Linked DNA regions of Homo sapiens: region 1 is linked to region 2. The links come from fine-mapping of genetic effects on gene expression. Tissue or cell type: monocytes after Pam3CSK4. Region 2 holds a variant in brackets; the other region holds the start of a gene. All regions are shown on one strand. Distances are from middle to middle.

The links.
Region 1: NEDD4 starts here. The variant in region 2 is fine-mapped to the expression of NEDD4 in monocytes after Pam3CSK4 (Quach 2016, PIP 0.95).

What each region holds. Positions count from the first base shown.
Region 1 is chr15:55,989,225-55,998,129 of GRCh38, forward strand. It overlaps NEDD4 (NEDD4 E3 ubiquitin protein ligase), which reads right to left and starts at 4,388. Exons shown (of 29, transcript NM_006154.4): 1 at 4,287-4,388. The coding sequence starts at 4,331. RefSeq lists an enhancer at 3,636-4,418 and silencers at 3,921-4,270, 4,511-4,610, 5,397-5,594.
Region 2 is chr15:56,036,733-56,045,637 of GRCh38, forward strand. No RefSeq gene overlaps it. Among named protein-coding and RNA genes, the nearest start is that of NEDD4, 48 kb to the left of the region's middle. RefSeq lists an enhancer at 3,434-4,633. The variant G/A (reference allele first, on the strand shown) is at 3,910.

The DNA of each region.
Region 1 (8,905 bases), 48 kb before region 2:
GACTCCGTCTCAAAAGTAAATACATAATTTAAAAATAAATTATTTTAAAAATACACTATATTTATTCACTTCTTTAGTCCCTGCTCCATGAAAAATACTTTACAATGATCCTGGAATTAAAGAGTTGCAAAAAAGCACTAATGGCAAAAACAATACATGAAAGATTGGGAGAAATTACTAATACAGCTGCTGCTTAACCTATGCTTCTCCTCCTTTGTGTGTAGTACATAAAGGTTTGGGAAGTTTGTTCCCAGACTGAGTAAGGGTCAGTTTCTGCTCAGCCTTAGTGGGTCCAGAAGTATCAGAATATGCCCTTCTTACCCTGCTACTTATGCACTGTTGTGGCTGCTGCCACCAGGGGCATCTATTATTCTGTATGTGCAAACTGCACTCTCCATACCGATAGCGGAGACTCTGAACTCTTTCCTCTTTATTTCCTTCCTTCTTTTCCTTGCTTCAGTCAGCCTTTCTTATAGGAAACAGAAATCATTCTAGATGCTTTAAGAAGAAAGAAGCTAATACAGGGGATTAGATGCTTACAAAATTTTTGGAAGAGCTGGAAGAGTAGGTGCTAGGCTGGACTTCTAGAGCAGGGGTCCCCAACCTTAGGAACCAGCCACACAGCAGGAGGTGAGTGGCAGGCCAGTGAGCAAAGCTTCATCTGTATTTACAGCCACTCCTCACCGATCACATTACCTCCGGAGCTCTGCTGCCTGTCAGATCAGCAGCGGCATTAGATTCTCATAAGAGCATGAACCCTATTGTGAACTGTCCATGCAAGCGATCTAGGTTGTGTACCCCTTATAAGAATCTAATGCCTGATGATTTGTCACTGTCTCCCTGTCTCCCATTACCGTCACCCACACTTGGGACCATCTAGTTGCAGGAAAACAAGCTCAGGGCTCCCACTAATTCTACATTACGGTGAGCTGTATAATTACTTCATTACATATCACAATGTAATCATAATAGAAGTAGAGTGCACCATACATGTAATGTGCTTGAATCATCCTGAAACCACTGGACCGCATCCCCGGTCCATGGAAAAACTATCTTCCATGAAACCGGTCCCTGGTGCCAAAACAGTTGGGGACTGCAGTTCTAGAAGATCAGAAACATGGCAGAACTGACCCATCCAGGAAGCTACTACCTCTCCCAGTCAGAAAGGTAGATGATCAGGAGTCATCACCAGAACTGATGACTTCAAGAATATAATCAATCTTGACGTCTGGAAGCCACTACCACCACTACTTCGGTGACTTCCTATCAATATGTACAAAGCAAGTTACCAGATACTGGAATACTTTCGCAGAAAATTTAGATGTTTACATGACTGTGCTTATCAGCAGAAAAAGCCAAAGAAACAAAACAATATGCTCCACCTCATTTCCACTCTGCAAATCTCAAGTAAGTGCACTTAACTGGGGAGCCTACTTTGGATCCAGTCCATTAATTTCAATGGAGTGTGGGAAACAGTGTTTAGTTTTCCCACCTCCATATCACAGGGAGGTGCATGGGAAGGAGGTGGGAAGTGATGCTCAATTCCAGTCCCCGCATCCACCACACTGCTCTCCAATAAAGATCAGTGCATGTTATTCTCTACTGTGAATCTCAAGTGACCAGAGCAAATCTGGTATAAATTATACTACACTTCCTCCTTTGTTTGTTAACACTTTAAAGGTAAAATCCTGCACATGCAGCCAGGGTGATCTCTTACTATAAGTCACTTATATGTGGAAGAAGAGCCAAAACTCACTGAAAAGTGAGAGAAAGGTATTATGATCTACATTTTAGCATACTTCAGTGCTAATATGCTCAGACACTGACTCAGCGACTATTCACTATATACTGATTAAATTACAATTCTTTCACTATCTTCTATCCCATTTCAAATTATTTTTCTCCCTGTTTTAGTTTCAAATTTAAAATAAGAATCCTCTCCTTTTGTTGTAATGAAAAAGCACTTTACTTTTAATCAACAGCAGAGGGCTGCCTATTTCCAGACTAGTCTGTGAGTTTTAGAAGTGACATAGCTGCAATGCTTTCTTCCTTTAACAAAAGGGGTGTTTGGGGGTGGGGAGGATGGGGGAGTGTGGTTTCAATCCTTCTTTTACTTTTGTGATAGACCAGAAAATAAATGGCAAATGATAGTGGAGAGGGCAACCTCCACAAGAAAAAAAGTGACTTTTATCTTTCCCTCAGTCCGAGGCTGAGACTGTCTTTTTTCCCTCTCTATCCCTGGTGCCTAGCACAATGCATGGTACAGAGCAAACAGTAAATGAATGTCTGTTGAATGAATAATCCAATTACAATGGAAGAAGTGGAAGACTCTTCATCATCATGTCTCTTATCTTCCTATCTCACTCCCTTCCTCAATGTGGACAAAATAGAGCGGGGACAGAAGCAAATTAGAGTCATGGAACTGACAGCCAGAACTCCCAGAATGTGAATGGGATAGGCCACAGTCCATGAAACTTCCTAGAAGTACAAATCCTTCAGCAAGTTCAGGAAATCCACATTTCAAAGGGTGGAGTTTCTGGCCTTTGGCCCCAGTTCCTTACCGACCACCCATTAACTGCCACAATTAGTTTTATTTCAGCTGGGCAGAGGGGTGATGATTGAAAACAGAGAAATTACTAAAGTAGATAATTAAAAACACTGATCATGTACCAAGAGGGAGAAAACAGATGGTGAATGATACCTTTGGCACTATTTTCTTTAAGATCAACTGGCTCTGCTGGAAGGCGGTGAGATGAGAAATCTGCAATTAGCAGGGCCTACCTGTGAATATAGCAGGGAAAGAAAGTCCAAGGTCAGCCTGATTGGGTTGGACACCACCTTGAAGTCAACTGCACTGGGCAGTCTACGTAGCAAGCAGGGAAATCTGACTGATAAGAAAGCGACCACAGGTGAAGTGCTGTATTATCTTCTGATCTCGTCTACAGAATAAAGGTGCCATTAGCTAGAATGATATCTTTAGCTGTAACACATTGACTATTGTTTCTGAGGGACTATGAGCCGCCACCATTTGTCCATCATCACTTTATTTCTCTTCTGGCAGCAATAGCTAGGAAATTAAATTCTAATCGCATCACGTAAGCATTCTCAAAATATCCTGAAATAACTGCATTAACAAATTGCCCACCCTTTATAAACAAAGAACTCTCAAGAGAAGTGTAAAATGTTTGACGACACCAAGGTACTAAGAGAAGGAACTATACAACTTAAATATTACAATACTTAAGCAAGCAGTATAAATTAGGTTGATGGATTTTCAGTTAACTGGGTCTCATCTTGATAAAAGGTACATGTGGCAGCTTAGTCAGCCAACAAGAAAGCAAAAAACTTGATTTTTTTCACTCGGAACCAGTCACTGTTAGACTACATGCAGCCTTTTCATCTCCCACCCATTTGCATTTTTGAGACAATCTCCAAGAACACACAGAAGCCACATATCATTTACGACGGAACAACCTTTCCAAATGGTCGTACAATATTTTTAATAAGCATAGGCATAATCAGCATTAGTTATTTAGCTGAAAAGAAACAGCTTTGCCTTCTTCAAATCCCAGAGCTTAATCTAGTTTTCAAAGGGAACAGATGTGGTAACTTCTTTATAAAGTATTTATACTTTTTTGGCTTCACTTTTTAACATCAACGACGACCGGTGAAATAAAGCATGAACTTCTCACACTAGACACTTGTTGCTAAAGAGGAGGAGGAAAATTTATGTTCCTGCTCTCCCATCCCTGTCTCTAGTTAGGGGATTAAAAAGGATTTCAGATAAAGAAGAAAAAAACAAACCAGCGAATGACAATTCACTTGGAACTCTCCAGACCGAAGTCCGTAAAGTTAAGTCGGCCCGGCCTCCGCCAGAGCAAGCAAATCAACAGCGGGGATGCTGCGACCGTCTCCCAACGCCTGGGAGCTCCGCACACCCGGCGGGGGTGGCAGGAAGGGGCTGGCGCGGTGATGTGGGTCCCCCGCCGACCGCCTAGCCCCCTCCTCAACACTTCCTGAAGGAAACTGACAAGTAAGGCGGCGGCCGCTCCGGGAAGGGGCGGGTGTGGACCCGACAAGCTTGCTCCCTCCAGCGAGCCCCCAGCGCCCGCGCGCCGAGCCGCCCCCACAGTCCCCGCGGCGCCTCGCGCGCTCCCCAGGCTCGCGCCGAGGGAGGAGGGGCTGACAGCAGAGCCTCCGGTCGTGGCCGCCGCCGCTACCTCCCCGGGTCCGGCTGCTGAATAACCCGAAGGGAAGCCCGCCCCGCAGCCCCGCGGTCCCCGCACCTCGTCCTCCAGGAGCCCGAACACCTCCACCGCGCAAGTTGCCATTTCCGAACGCTTCCAGCAAACCGGACGCGCTCGCCCCCGCCCAGGGCAGGCAACTGTGGAGGAGGAGGAGGAGAAGCGGGAGGAGGCGGGGAAGAGTTGGAGGAAGAGGAGGAGGCGCTCCCTCAGCGACAGCAGCGCCTCCCGCGGCGAGCGGGCACTAGCGGCACCCGGCAGCGCGGCGGGAAAAGGCCGGCGGCGCGCGCTCCTGGGGCTGGGCGGGGGCGCGCGTGGCGGGGCTCGGGGAGTGGGGAGGGCGTGCGGCGGGGCTCGGGTGGGATGAGCGCGCGCGGCGGGGACCATGGCGTGGGGAGCGCGCGTGGCGGGGCGCGCCCTCGGTCCCTTCCCGGGAGGTGGGTGGTTGACGGGCCCGCCGGGGAGCCAGGGAGCGCCGGGAAGCGCCGGGAAGCCAAGCTGCAGTGTTCCTCAGCAACAAGTCTCGCTGAGATCCGACCCAGAGTTCGGCCTCTGACTAGACGCCTGGGAATCCGTGAGCTTAATCCCCGCTTAAATCCCAAACGGAAAATCATAGCGCTTTCTTGTCGGTTAAGGGTGTCATTCCCATAAGAAGCTGGACCTGGGGACCGCCAGGGAAAGCCTGAGCGTGGCAGCAAATGGGGAGGCCTGGAGGGATCGCAGCAGTCTTGGACTCGGGATCTGAAATTCTCTCCCTAGGATTTGTAAACAGTGCCAGTTCCTAAGCTATTTGTTGTCCTATGGTCTGTCCATCTTTAAATCCCACCAGTAACAATCCAATCTCCAGGCTGACCCTCTAAACCTGCTTTAGCTGGGCGTTGATCCGCAGCACCACCAGAAGGCAGTGACGAAGAGGGAAAAATAAAGTGAACTAGGACCTCCTGTAGAATAACTCCTCCTGTGGAATAACTCCTCCTGTGGAATAAGGTTATGGAATAATCATGCTTTTTAATATTCCTGTCTGATGGGCTTTATAATTCCATAATTACAGGAAGACCTCCACCAAATAAGGCATCCATAAAAGAGTCTGGGGAGAATTATGAACACCCAGGCCACAATTTATATCATGTTGTTTTTATACATTTGCAGAAATTTGCAGAATTCTGCAATCTCAAAATCTAATTTTTATTTTCCTCAATGATTTCAGAATAACTCTGATTTATTTTTAACAGTTTAAGATGCTACGTGGGAACAAGGCTATAGCCCATATTACTGGTTTGTTACGTAAGATTTTTCTCGTACTTGGCCGGGCGCGGTGGCTCACGCCTGTAATCCCAGCACTTTGGGAAACCTAAGGCGGTGAATCACCTTAGGTCAGGAGTTCGAGCCCAACCTGGCCAACATAGTAAAACCCTGTCTCTACTAAAAACACAAAAATTAGCTGGGCGTGGTGGCGGGCGCCTGGAGTCCCAGCTGCTTGGGTGGCTGAGGCAAGGGAATCGCTTGAGCTTGGGAGGAGGAGGTTACAGTGAGCCAAGATTGCGCCGTTGCACTCCAGCCTGGGCGACAGAACAAGACTCCACCTCAATTGTCGTACTTTATGATTGGTAGGATCCATTTCATTCATATAATATGTATCAAAATTCTGTTAATACACAATTCAGATTTTATCCGTATTAGGGGGAAAGAGATGGCACTTAATCAAACATGACTACAAAATTACAGAATGGTCAGGAATTGTTGGCTTACCTAAATCGAAAAAGCCATGAGAGCATTAATTTGTTTTTTAAGTTGTCACATATCTGTGGGATTTGTGGGTTAAGAATAAAATAATCTGAAAATATTGTGTGCCCTTCTATTTTGCGAATATTTCCCTCATCTCTCATGATACACATTTTTATGTTTAATTTTAAGTTAGTTAAGTCATTTGAATTTAAGTTAATTCAGTGTCATTTCAGGGCACAATTACAAACGTGTAAAAACAGCTTCCGTTACTGCTACTAAAATTTAATGAATATATGAGAAGTATACACAGCCTAAAACTGGTAATTAAAAAAAAAAAAATCAGTAAATCCCCAAGGGATTATAAAGTAAAGCAAATTGGCCATTTGATGTATCCAATAGGTATTAGTGATGATACTTCTAAAGACCACTGATTTGACTCATGATTTCTTATTCTGTCTTTCCGAATATGAAATCATGAAGAATTAAACAGCTACCAATACAAGATGAACTAGAGTAATTATTGTATCCCGGTCAACAGCTAGGAGGGGCACCTGAAATTAAAGGAAGCTCAAATCGGGATGGTGATATCAGCTGGTGGTCCAATAACCAACCACCACTGAGAAAGCTGTTTAGAATGAAGAACTCCTCTACATATCACTCAACTGCGCAGAACTCTCATGAAGGCGTTTTGTCTACCTAGGCTGCCTTCAATTAGGTTCATGTTGATTTGGTTTGAGTGTGTGTATAACCATGTGAGGCACGTGTGAAGAATGTGACATGGTGCATAACAATTGATTCTGTGCCTCATACCTGTGCTAGGGATCATCCCAAGCCAAAATCCAGGCAATTCTAGCAACCTCCAATAGCATCACCCCTTCTATCTCTTGTTCTTGAGTCTTTTCTCCCTTCAAATCTGCCTTTACATGAGCCTCCAAACTGATTAAGAAGCAAGAAATGAATGAAAACCAGTAAACCTGGTCTAGACTTTCTAGTAGTCTGTATACGTAAACCTCTTTAACTCTGCCTATAGATTTCACTGTGATGCAGAAATTGTTTCTAGTTTTTAAAATATCACCCCCTGGGATCAAAATTGGATGTGGAATGTAACAATATGAAAGGTAATGATACGAAATGCACTTTAATGTTGGTAATTAATTCCCTAAGGGATATAAAAAAGTCTTGTTCAGAAGTTCTCCTTTAATTCTCTCTTACTCTTAATATCCCCTGGCTGCTTCCTTTCTAATAGTTAATGTTTGAGATTTTTAAGGTTCATTTTTTCTTCCACTGGAAACTCCCTGGACCTCATCCATTGCCATTGCCATTACCATAGTTTCAGCTACTTTCTTCATAGAGCCCATCTCAGATCCAGAGCTCAGTAGTGCAAGAAATGTTTATTTGATTTTCTGAAATGAACTAAGTTTCTGCCTCCAGTAGTAGAATACATAGTCCCAATCAATTCATTGGTCTTGCCTGACCCTCTTTTTGCTAAGCTGGATTCTGACTTCTAACAGGCTGTTGTGCTCCCTCATCTTGGTGATAAAGGTTCTCATCACTCCCTCCTGGAATTAGTAGATGTATCTGTGTTCCCGCTGGCCTCTAGCTGTGGACATCTTTATCAAGTAGAATTACATTTGGCTGTTACCTAAACTAATAAGATTTAAAGATTCATGTTATATGGCTGTCATGTAAAAGTCTAGACAGTGGGCAGGGCAGGGTTAATATGGCTAGTTTGCTCTGCCAAAGGGTCAGAAATTCAGGCACTTCACAGCTCACTGCTCTGATGTTTGTAGGTGTGACCCTTATCCTCATAGTCCAGAGAGTGGCTCAAGCTTCAATCATTACGTCTATGTTCCAGGTTACAAGGCAGAGGAAGGAGTAAAGAAGAGAGTTCAGGTATCATGGTCATCTTTTAAAATGCCCTCCTCACCCCACAAGGGGTGGGAGGTAGTGAGAAAGACGGCCAGGTGCAAGGCAGTGGGACCCAGGTGTGTTCAAGGAAGGGTTTGCTTGGTGGACTGGTGATGGCAGAAATGGGAAATTAGTTACTTGTAGAGACAAGTGATCCAATAAGTGAATATATGAATGATAATGAGAACCACATTAGTCACTGTTGAAGAAGTTACAAGAATGGAAAGAGAAAACTTGAATGAGTCTTGTGTTGTTATAATGAAATTGGTGGTGTTGATATGAACTCAAAAGTTTTTAACATATATATATAGTATATAAATAAATGTAGATGTAAACCTCTGCTGCATACACACACACACACACACACACACACACACACACACAAATATTTTCTACATTTGTATTCTAAGAGGGCCTGGGAACAATGACACCCCAAAAGCAATGAGCATATCTTGCATCCATATTTTAACTTTTTACTAAAAGAAACCAGGGCTCCTTGGAAAAATGGCTGATTCCAGGACTAGGACAAGGCAAATAAAAGTTGAGCCTGAAACATCTTGTTATCCCAGAAAATAATGAAAGTAATGATGGAGACAGAATAAAAGGACACAGGAACCAACCTGAAAAAAGCTCCCACTGGCCAAAGATGGCCTAACTTGAGCACTAAAATAAATTATGATAGCAACAGATTATAATCCAATGAATAATTCTGGTACCATGTGTTCATTACAGATATAAATTATAATAAATGAGTACATTCAAAGTTCAATGAAAAATGAGATTTTTACAGGGTTCAACATATATTTCCAGAAAGTACTTAGTTACATAGATTAAAAGGCTGAAATATACCACCTTAATCAAATGATCAAAGTGAACATTTGATAAACCAAAATCTTGCAACCCATTGCTTTTCCTCCATAACTTGGATCTAATCATGAGAAAACAAATCCAATTTAAGGAACGTACTACAAAATATCTGCCCTGTAATCTTCAAAAGTGTCAAGGACATAGAAGTCAAGAAAGTTGGA
Region 2 (8,905 bases):
GCATGGCTTCTCCTCAGTACACCAACACGGGTCTGTCTGTCTGGAAACAGCTTCCAGCTGGTTTGTTGCTGGCAGCAGTGTCCAGCTGCCCTGATCTAGAGAAGCCGCTCTCCTATCCATGGTTTTGTCCCCGTGGCCCTTGCCCTTGTCTACACAGACCTGGCTCACCTGCTTTCTTGGCAGGACCTACCCAGTAGTCACCCACAGGATAGTACTCACCTTTTCTCTCTATTTTCTGTGTACCAGCCTCTCCTTTGCTCTCATCTTCTTTCCTACCCAGTTTAGGTTTTCTCCCCCTTTGCCATATCTTTTCCTCACCTCACTATTGTTTCATCTGAATTTTCTAGTGTTAGTAACATTCACCTTTGGATGGGAAAATAATCAAGTCACGACATTACTCAGAATTAAACTAGATATCTCTAAGTTTTCTTTCAACACTATAATTTCATGATTCTTTGGAGCTACTGTTCTCCCCAACTTCTACCTGCTAAATAAATAATCCAGTTAGAACTTTCACTTTAGTCTGTACTTGACTCTATTTAGAGTTAATTTAGGAGACAGAATAATGGCTCATAAGTTTCTCAACCTCACTAATAAGCAAAGAAATTCAAATGAAAGAGGATTGTTTTCAATCCACCAAACTGACAAAAATGAAAAATATCAATTCCCAGGGTAGGAAAGTTGGTTGGCTGGTACTTTGGGATATATCATTCTGGAAAAGAATCTGGTAACATGTATTAATATTTTAAATATGCATATTCCACATTTGGGAATTTATCCTAAGGCCAAATAAGCAAAGATGTATATAAAATAATGTTAATTGCAGCACTGCATGTAGTAGAAAAATTCAAAACCACTTAAGTGTCCATCAGTAGGAGAGGGTTAATATGATACATGCATAATACTATGCAGATTAAAAAATAATCAGATTGATAAGTGATTCTCAACCCTGACTGCACTTGTGAATCCAGAAACACTTAAAAAACTCGTAATTCCAGGATCCACCCTCAGAGGTTCTGATTATCTGTTTGAGAATGAGGCCCAGTATTTGCACTGTTTTAAAGTGCCCCAGGTAATTCTAATGTGCAGTCAAGTTTGAGAACCACTCAACCCTTAATATGCGAGATGTTTCTATCAGCTCTAACAAGAAAGATGCCCATGATACACTGCAAGTGAAAAAATTAGGTTACTTAATTTGTTGATTATGATTTGTTAAATTGAGCTAAAAATGGCCTGAGAAGGACTCTGTACTTCTATATTTGAGTCCTTGTGGACAAACTGTAATCTAACTTAATAGGTAGACAAGATTGAAAACCTAACTTAGGAGCATGTGCCTGTAACAAGAGCTGAGTCTTGGCCAATCCCAACAGCCATACTTCAACCACTCATACACTGCTGAGTGTTCAAACTGTGTTCACGTAAGGCAAATGTCGAGCTGTAACCAATCCAGCTGTTTCTGTACCTCACTTCCAATTTCTGTACATCACTTCCTGTTTTTTAATCTATAAATCTTCCACCACGTGGCTGTACTGGAAACTCTATGAATCTGCTGTGATTCTGGGGACTGCCTGATTCATGAATCATTTATTGCTCAAACTCCTTTAAATTTAATTTGCCTGAAGTTTTTATTTTATCAGATTACATTTATTAACAAATTATACATGTGCATTAAAATATAAAAGTTTACACACAGTTATTTCTGAAGAGTGAATTACATATTTGCAGTCTGTTTTCAACCATTATCATATATTTCTCTTTTTTGAAAAAATGAAAAGGCTGTACAGGCTGAAAATGCAGAGAAAAAATGAAAACTGGCCTTCAGATGGCTTCTGAGTGCCAACAGGGACTTCCATCCTAAACCTGGTTTTATTTCTGTGGCTGACAACAGCAAAGTGTGTACTTAGAGATAATATGGTCATTGTATTAGTTTGTTCTCACACTGCTAAAAAGAACTACTTGAGGCTGGGTAATTTACGAAGAAAAGAGAGTGACTTGACTCACCATTCCACAGGCTATACAGGAAGCATGGCTAGGGAGGCCTCAGGAAACTTACAGTCATGGCGGAAGCAGGCACATCTTCACATGGTGGAAGAGAGAGAGAAAGTGCTAAGGTGGAAGTGCTACACACTTTTAAACATCCAGATCTCGTGAGAACTCACTGACTGTCATGAGAACAGTAAGGGGGAAATCCACCTCCATGATCCAATCACCTCCCACCTTCCCCCAACACTGGGGATTACAATTCATCATGAGATTTTGGTGGTGACATAGAGCCAAACCATATCAGTCATCTTAGCTCAAGTCAAAAATACTGGCTTGGCTAAATAATTCATTATGGTTCCGTTCACCATGAATTTATGTTCTGCAGAAAGAAATAATGAAATGGAATATGTGCATCATCTTGTATTTTAGAAACAAAATGTTTAGGCAATCATTTCTAAATTCATACATTAAAAAAGTGTGTGCATACTTGAAGAGTTAAACTTTGTAGAAAGTATCTCGTAGGTGAACTGGCTTCAGTGGGCTTTACTGAAAATCATGATTTAGAGTTTTACCACATAGTAGAGTTCACTAAAAAATATTACAGCTCTCCAGGCATGGTGGCTCATGCCTATAATTCCAGCACTTTGCAGGCTGAGGCAGGAGGATTGCTTAAGAACAGGAGTTCAAGGCTGCAGTGAGCTGTAATCATGCCACTGCACTCCAGCCCTGTCTCAAAAAGTAATTACAACTCAATAAAACTGGTGTGTGTGTGTGTGTGTGTGTGTGTGTGTGTGTGTGTATCATTGATTGTAAGTCTGATATTTCTCTCTCCCTTCCTTCCTTGCTGTCTCCACCCTTGTAAACAAAACAAAACAAAAAAACTCCAACCAGTTTTCCCAGGGTCAGTCTACTGAAGAGCTGATTTCTACGTATTGCATAAACTATACTATTCATGAATTTTAAAAAATAACTTAAACTCTCAGGTGATATCATCATTTTCTTTGTTATTTCTTTCTATTGCATACCACCTTCAGAATGATAAAGAGACTGAGGCTCTAGTCACAATTATATTCAGCTGTCAGGAATGATTAACTATCTTCCTTCTCCCCATGAAGTGCATGAGAATGCAACCATGCAAGTTAGGCTGATAATGTCCCCCATCAGATGCTATGGCTCCTCTTGCCTCAGAAGAGAAAAACAGCATGGTTTTGTACTAGGTTATGGAATGAAGTCTGGGATGAATTTTCTGGTTTGTCTGGGGTCAGTCTTCTAGCAAGACTTACTTTAATTTTAAATTTTTTTAATTTAATTTTTTTTGAGACAGTCTCAGTCTGTTGGCCAGGCTGGAGTGCAGTGGCACTATCATGGCTCACTGCAGTCCTGACCTCCCAAGCTCAAGTGATCCTCCCACCTCAGCCTCCTGAATAGCCAGGACCACAGGCATGTGCCACCACGCCTAGCTAATTTTTAAAAAAATCTCTTTGGTAGAGATAGGGTTTCACCATTTTGCCCAGTATGGTCTCGAACTCCTGGGCTCAGGCCATCCACCTGCCTCATTATCCCAAAGTGCTGGGATTACAGGCATGAGTCACCGTGCCTGGCGAGCAAGACTTACTTTGCTTCAAGTTTTGTTTCCAGAACATTTAGGTACCAATTCTCAATATAGAATTCTAACTACAAAAGTCACAAGTTATAAGGCATTTTTGAAGCAGTCACTGTTCATGTCCATCTGTGTCTTTCTTTCCCTCCACTAGCATGGATAATTTGGAGTTAACTGTAGAGCAAATACTTAGGAAATTAATCCCACATGATTTTCAGGTTCAAGGTGAGAAAAAAAGGAGAAAGTACAGTTCTTGTACCTTGACACACTTTATTCCATCTGCAGAAGTGGCTGCAGCTCACATGTGTGACTCACGTTGGAACAGC[G/A]GGCTCACATAATAGCATCACGTGCTGGCAAAGTGTTCAGATGACAAGCCAGTTACCTCATTCGGCTGATGCAATCCTGGAATTTCCTGAATTGAAATACAATTTAGGACCAGAAGGGAGAGACCCTGGGCTGTTTGATTAGGGCATCACCTTTAGCTAATTCTAACCACCCCCACCTTTTTTTTCCCATTTGTCTATTTCCTTCTTTCCTTAGGTGTGAGGTAATAATACTAATTGGTAACAGTTAAACTGTGCTGTGCACTCATCTAAGAGTTTTACTCTTAATTGTCAAACAATCCTAGGAGGCAGGCATCCCATTTTTTTCAGATAAGGCAACTGAGGTGCAAAAATCCCATGTCATTGCTTTAGGTCACACAGGAGAAAATGTAAGGCTCTTCTCTTTGAGATGTATACCTGAGGATCTTTGCTTTTAGTGATCAGATTGTGTGTAAGTTTTCCAGGGAGTCCCACTCGTGGAAAGCCCACGACTGCTGTGAGCTGTGACTGAAGATGTTGCCACCTCAGTGTGGTCAATGGCTCTGTCATCCAGTTTTAACCTCCATATCAGAACTTTCTTTAAATTATATGTAGAATTTTTTATTTTTCTACTATTGTTTCAGATTTTTCTTAGTATTTTAAGATGGTTTTTAGTGTTTTACCAGAAAAGGGTCACCACTTAAGATTCCCCTACCCCTGCTTTTTAGGATTTAAGGAGTGGGATATAGTTATTTATTATTTAGTGTGTTAAGATTATTTTCAGATAATAGCAAATGGTCAAGTCTTAATCATTTTTATACCCCATTATTTTGTTCTGGATATAATACCAATATTTATATAAATAGACCAAGGTAGAAGGATTGCTTGAGGCCAGGAGTTCAAGATCAGCTTAGGCAACGACATAGCAAGACCCCATCTCTACAAAAAATTTAAAAAAATTAGCTGGGTGTGGTGATGCATGCCTATAGTCCCAGCTACTTGAGAGGCTGAGGTGGCAGGATCTCTTGAGCCAGGAGTTTGAGGCTGCAGTGAGCTATGATTGTACTACTGCACTCCATCCTGGGCAGCAGATCGAGACCCTTTCTTTAAAGAAAAAATAAACAGGCAAGGAATATATTAGCTTGATAATTATCTTTAGCTGTGACACAAAAAGTGAATACATCCTTCACATTCTGTCATCATGTAGGAATGGAGAAAACTATAAATATGTAAAAATCTTTGAGACCATATTAATGATGGATTCCATTAAGCCCTGGACATTTTGGTGTAACAGTTCCACCTGACAGCTACACCAATCCCAACCACACCATGAAGGGAAGAAACACAGATCCAGTACAGATTGATGGTTCAAACTTACTGCCTGGATGCAAGGTGCCCAGAACAGGCATTTCTAACTCCTTCTGGCCAGGGATGAAATGTGAGACCTTTTGTTACTTTTGAGACACAGAGTTCAACTCTTGCTCTCACATGTTCCTGCAATTGTAGAATATTTTAAAGATTAAAGTCATGGTTCTTTAACATCACCTGTAGTTCAGGGGCCCAGACCTGTCCTGTTAAATCCCCTGACACAAGGCAAGTGCTGCTTCAAGATTCCTTTCTTATCTGTCAAGGTAAACAAAACAAAACAAAACCAGACTTGTCACGCCAAGCTCATGGAGGATAGACAGAACTCTATAGACAAATTAAAAGTCTATTTATAATCACAGATATGCAATGAACCCAACACAATTGATGCTTTATTGCTTATTTGAAGATAAATTCCTATTTCTCCCACCTCTCCCTCTACCCAGTACATTTTAAATGTAATCAGTAGACTTAACAATTTAAGAGTACCCATAAATGAGGATACTAATAGGAATTAGCTGATTCGTCCCACAGAATCCTGAAAATGCTCATGAATTGGAAGTGCCAAGTATCTCAGAAGGTAGGGTTGTGTGTGTCAATGTGTGTGTGTGTGTGTGTGTCTCTGTGTTTGTGTGTATGTGTGTTAAATGCACCTGATAGCAATAATTTACGCATACCCTGAGAATGACCCTGTATAGCAGGTGCACCTGAATGCGGTTCAGAGTTCCAAGCTAAGGAATGTGGGAGAGGACAACGCAGAGATTCATTCCTTATCTATAAGGAACATCTAGGCCCCATCCTGTCCTGTGGAATGTGAGCTGTACAGAGGATTGAGGCCATTTGTTTTGGTTTAAATGCAAGTTTCCAGGTGGAGCTTATTAGGAGGCAGGGGCTAAGTGAAAATGCTGTAAAACCTGCATGCTTTTTGCAAGTGGTTGTGATTCTTCTGCTCAGCCTACTGCCCCTGGGTCGTGGGGTTCTCCTGTTCCGCCCACCACCACTGGGCTCTCCCCTGTGTTTAGCCCCCAGTACAACCCCATGTCTTGTTTGCTGGCTCTGGGTCTCTTCTTTGGCCTCTTGAACCTGGTGTCATCCCCATTGGAGTCTATAAAGGTTTGGTGCCACAGTGTGTAAAAAGCAAAGTCGAGGGACTGTTTGAAAGCCTGTATAAGCAACAGTTAGATTCCCAGGTTACTATCCACACTGTAAGGAGTCAGGTCCTACGTCTTCCCAGTACTAGTAGTGGAGGAGATACTTTGAAACTGAACTAGGAATAGAGAAGAGTGAAGATGAGATGACCCATTTGAAACAGAGTCAGTGATCTGCATTTGAAATTGTAAAGCCTTTTTCAAGTTCCCCTACTGAATTTCAGAATAACAATAACCAATCATACAACCACAAGCAGGATGTGGGGAGATGAACCACCTCAGAAAAAATACAGCGTCTCTCTAGAGACATTTGACGCAAGAAAATAGGGTCTGGAGGTAGGGAACCTAAGGCCAATTCCCACTGACTTCCTAGAACTGTATCAAAAGGAAAACCCCGACTTTCCACATCTAAGTAACAAAGAGACCACAGGCTACTCCCTTTGCAAACCACCCCCTCTTTCCTGCATGGCAGATGGAAAATTTAAAATACTTCTGATTGGTTGCTTTCCACAATCAGACTGATTGGTAGCCAAGTCTTCATTTGCATAGAAGTATAACTTTGTAACTTCACTTTAGCCTGTGATTGGTTGTTTTCCACAACCAATCAGATGTTTGCATAGAGTGTAACCGTTTAACTTCACTTCAGCCTTTGATTGATTGCTTTCTGCAACCAATCAGACTGATGTGGGCCACTACTTCATTTGCATGAGGTATACACCAAGTGGCCAATGGAAAACCTCTAGTGAATATTTAAACCCAGAAAATTATGTAACTAGGCTCTTCAGCTCCTGTGCTTGGGACGCTCCATCTCTGTGGAGTGTACTTTCGTTTTCAGTAAATCTCTGGTTTTGCTGCTTCATTCTTTTCTTGCTTTGTTTGTGCATTGTGTCCAATTCTTTGTGGAAGATGCCAAGAACCTGGACACCCTCGACCAGTAACGCATTGACCTTTGGGGCTACATGAAGAAAAAGCCAGCTGGCCACCTGATTTCCCTGGAGTGTACTATTCATTCACACTTCTTGATTTAGATGTAAATATATATACAGTCATAGCAATGAAAAACACTGAAAATGAATTTACCAAAATTTATGAAAAAACTGCATTGGAAGGATGGATTGGGGAAGCTAAGGGAGTGTAACTCCTCCTCTACCATGATAATAGATAACTTGGATAATTTCTAAAATTGGTGAATAAATAGCAAAGTTGCATATTTAGAAATATGAGGGTAAATGCTAGAACATGACAAAATTGAAAATAGTTACCTCTAAGGAGCAGAACAAGAAGATGAAGAAAGCAGAGGAATACTGTGTTTTATTACATACTTTTGATGGTTATATGAGTTTTTAAAACATTATGGACGAGTTATTACTTTGAAAGTGACGTGATAGTAGTACGTTAGATTATTGACTTTTCAATTAATACTTTAGAGGTTGCATACTTTAAACATGTCATAAATAACTCTGTTCCCTTCCAAAAGGAACCATATTGTTTTCTTTCAGGATGCTTCCTGAAAGTTAACTCTTTCAGGGAAAACAGAGATTTCCAGGGAGGAAATTCCAGGAAGACATTAGAACCCCAGAAGGGAAGTGGGAAGGCTGTCTTTCTGTAGACGCATCACTCTCTGTATATGAGCTGGGATACCTTTGCAGTAAATGGCTATTACCTTTCCAGAAATTGAAAAGCAAGTGCTTCGTTATTTAAGAATGTTGTTGAGATGTATTCTGAGGAGATAAACTGTGGAATACCCCACAAACAAAAAATAACTTCCTCATTAATTATGCACGGTGAAAAGACTCTTTAAACCTATTTTTAAAACAAATTATCTGTTCATCAATATTAGTTAATGCCCCTGGCAGAAATCAAGACCAGTTACAGATATTAAATAGAGAAAATCTGCCTGGTCAGGAGATATAGGTCAGGCTTAATTATCTGATTATTCAGTAGAAAGAGTAATATGGATTATTTAAAGACTCCTTTGAGGCAACACGGAGTTCTCTCTAGAGTCTTCTTCTAAAGAAGTAACTAAATATTATGACCTAAGTGGAGATCTGAAGAAACAAGCTGCTAAGCAAAGAAAGTCTTAAAGGTATTCCACTTCCTCATAAATTTACCAAAACAAGTTTTAGTTCAATGACTAATACATTCTTGTCTTTCCCTATAAAAGTGATTTCCCAGTTCAAGTAGTGATTCTCTTTAATAAGATCCAGACTATAAATGATCTTAAACCAGAAGAAATAACTAAATGTCATGAGGAAATCTCCAGGTCTAGCAATTTTGATAAAGTCTTGAAACCGTGACTTTGTCTAACATCCATCTTTCCACATTGGCTCTGTAAGACCTAACAGTAGGGAAGTGGCTCATCAAATATGTTGAAAGTCATGACAGTATTCCTGAAGAAATATAACAGGTAAAAACAAAACTGTATCATCAGCAATAATTTCAAAGCAAAACAATGCGTCAGCTTGTCTCTAAAAGTGTTCTGGGATAGTATTTAGAGATTTTGACCT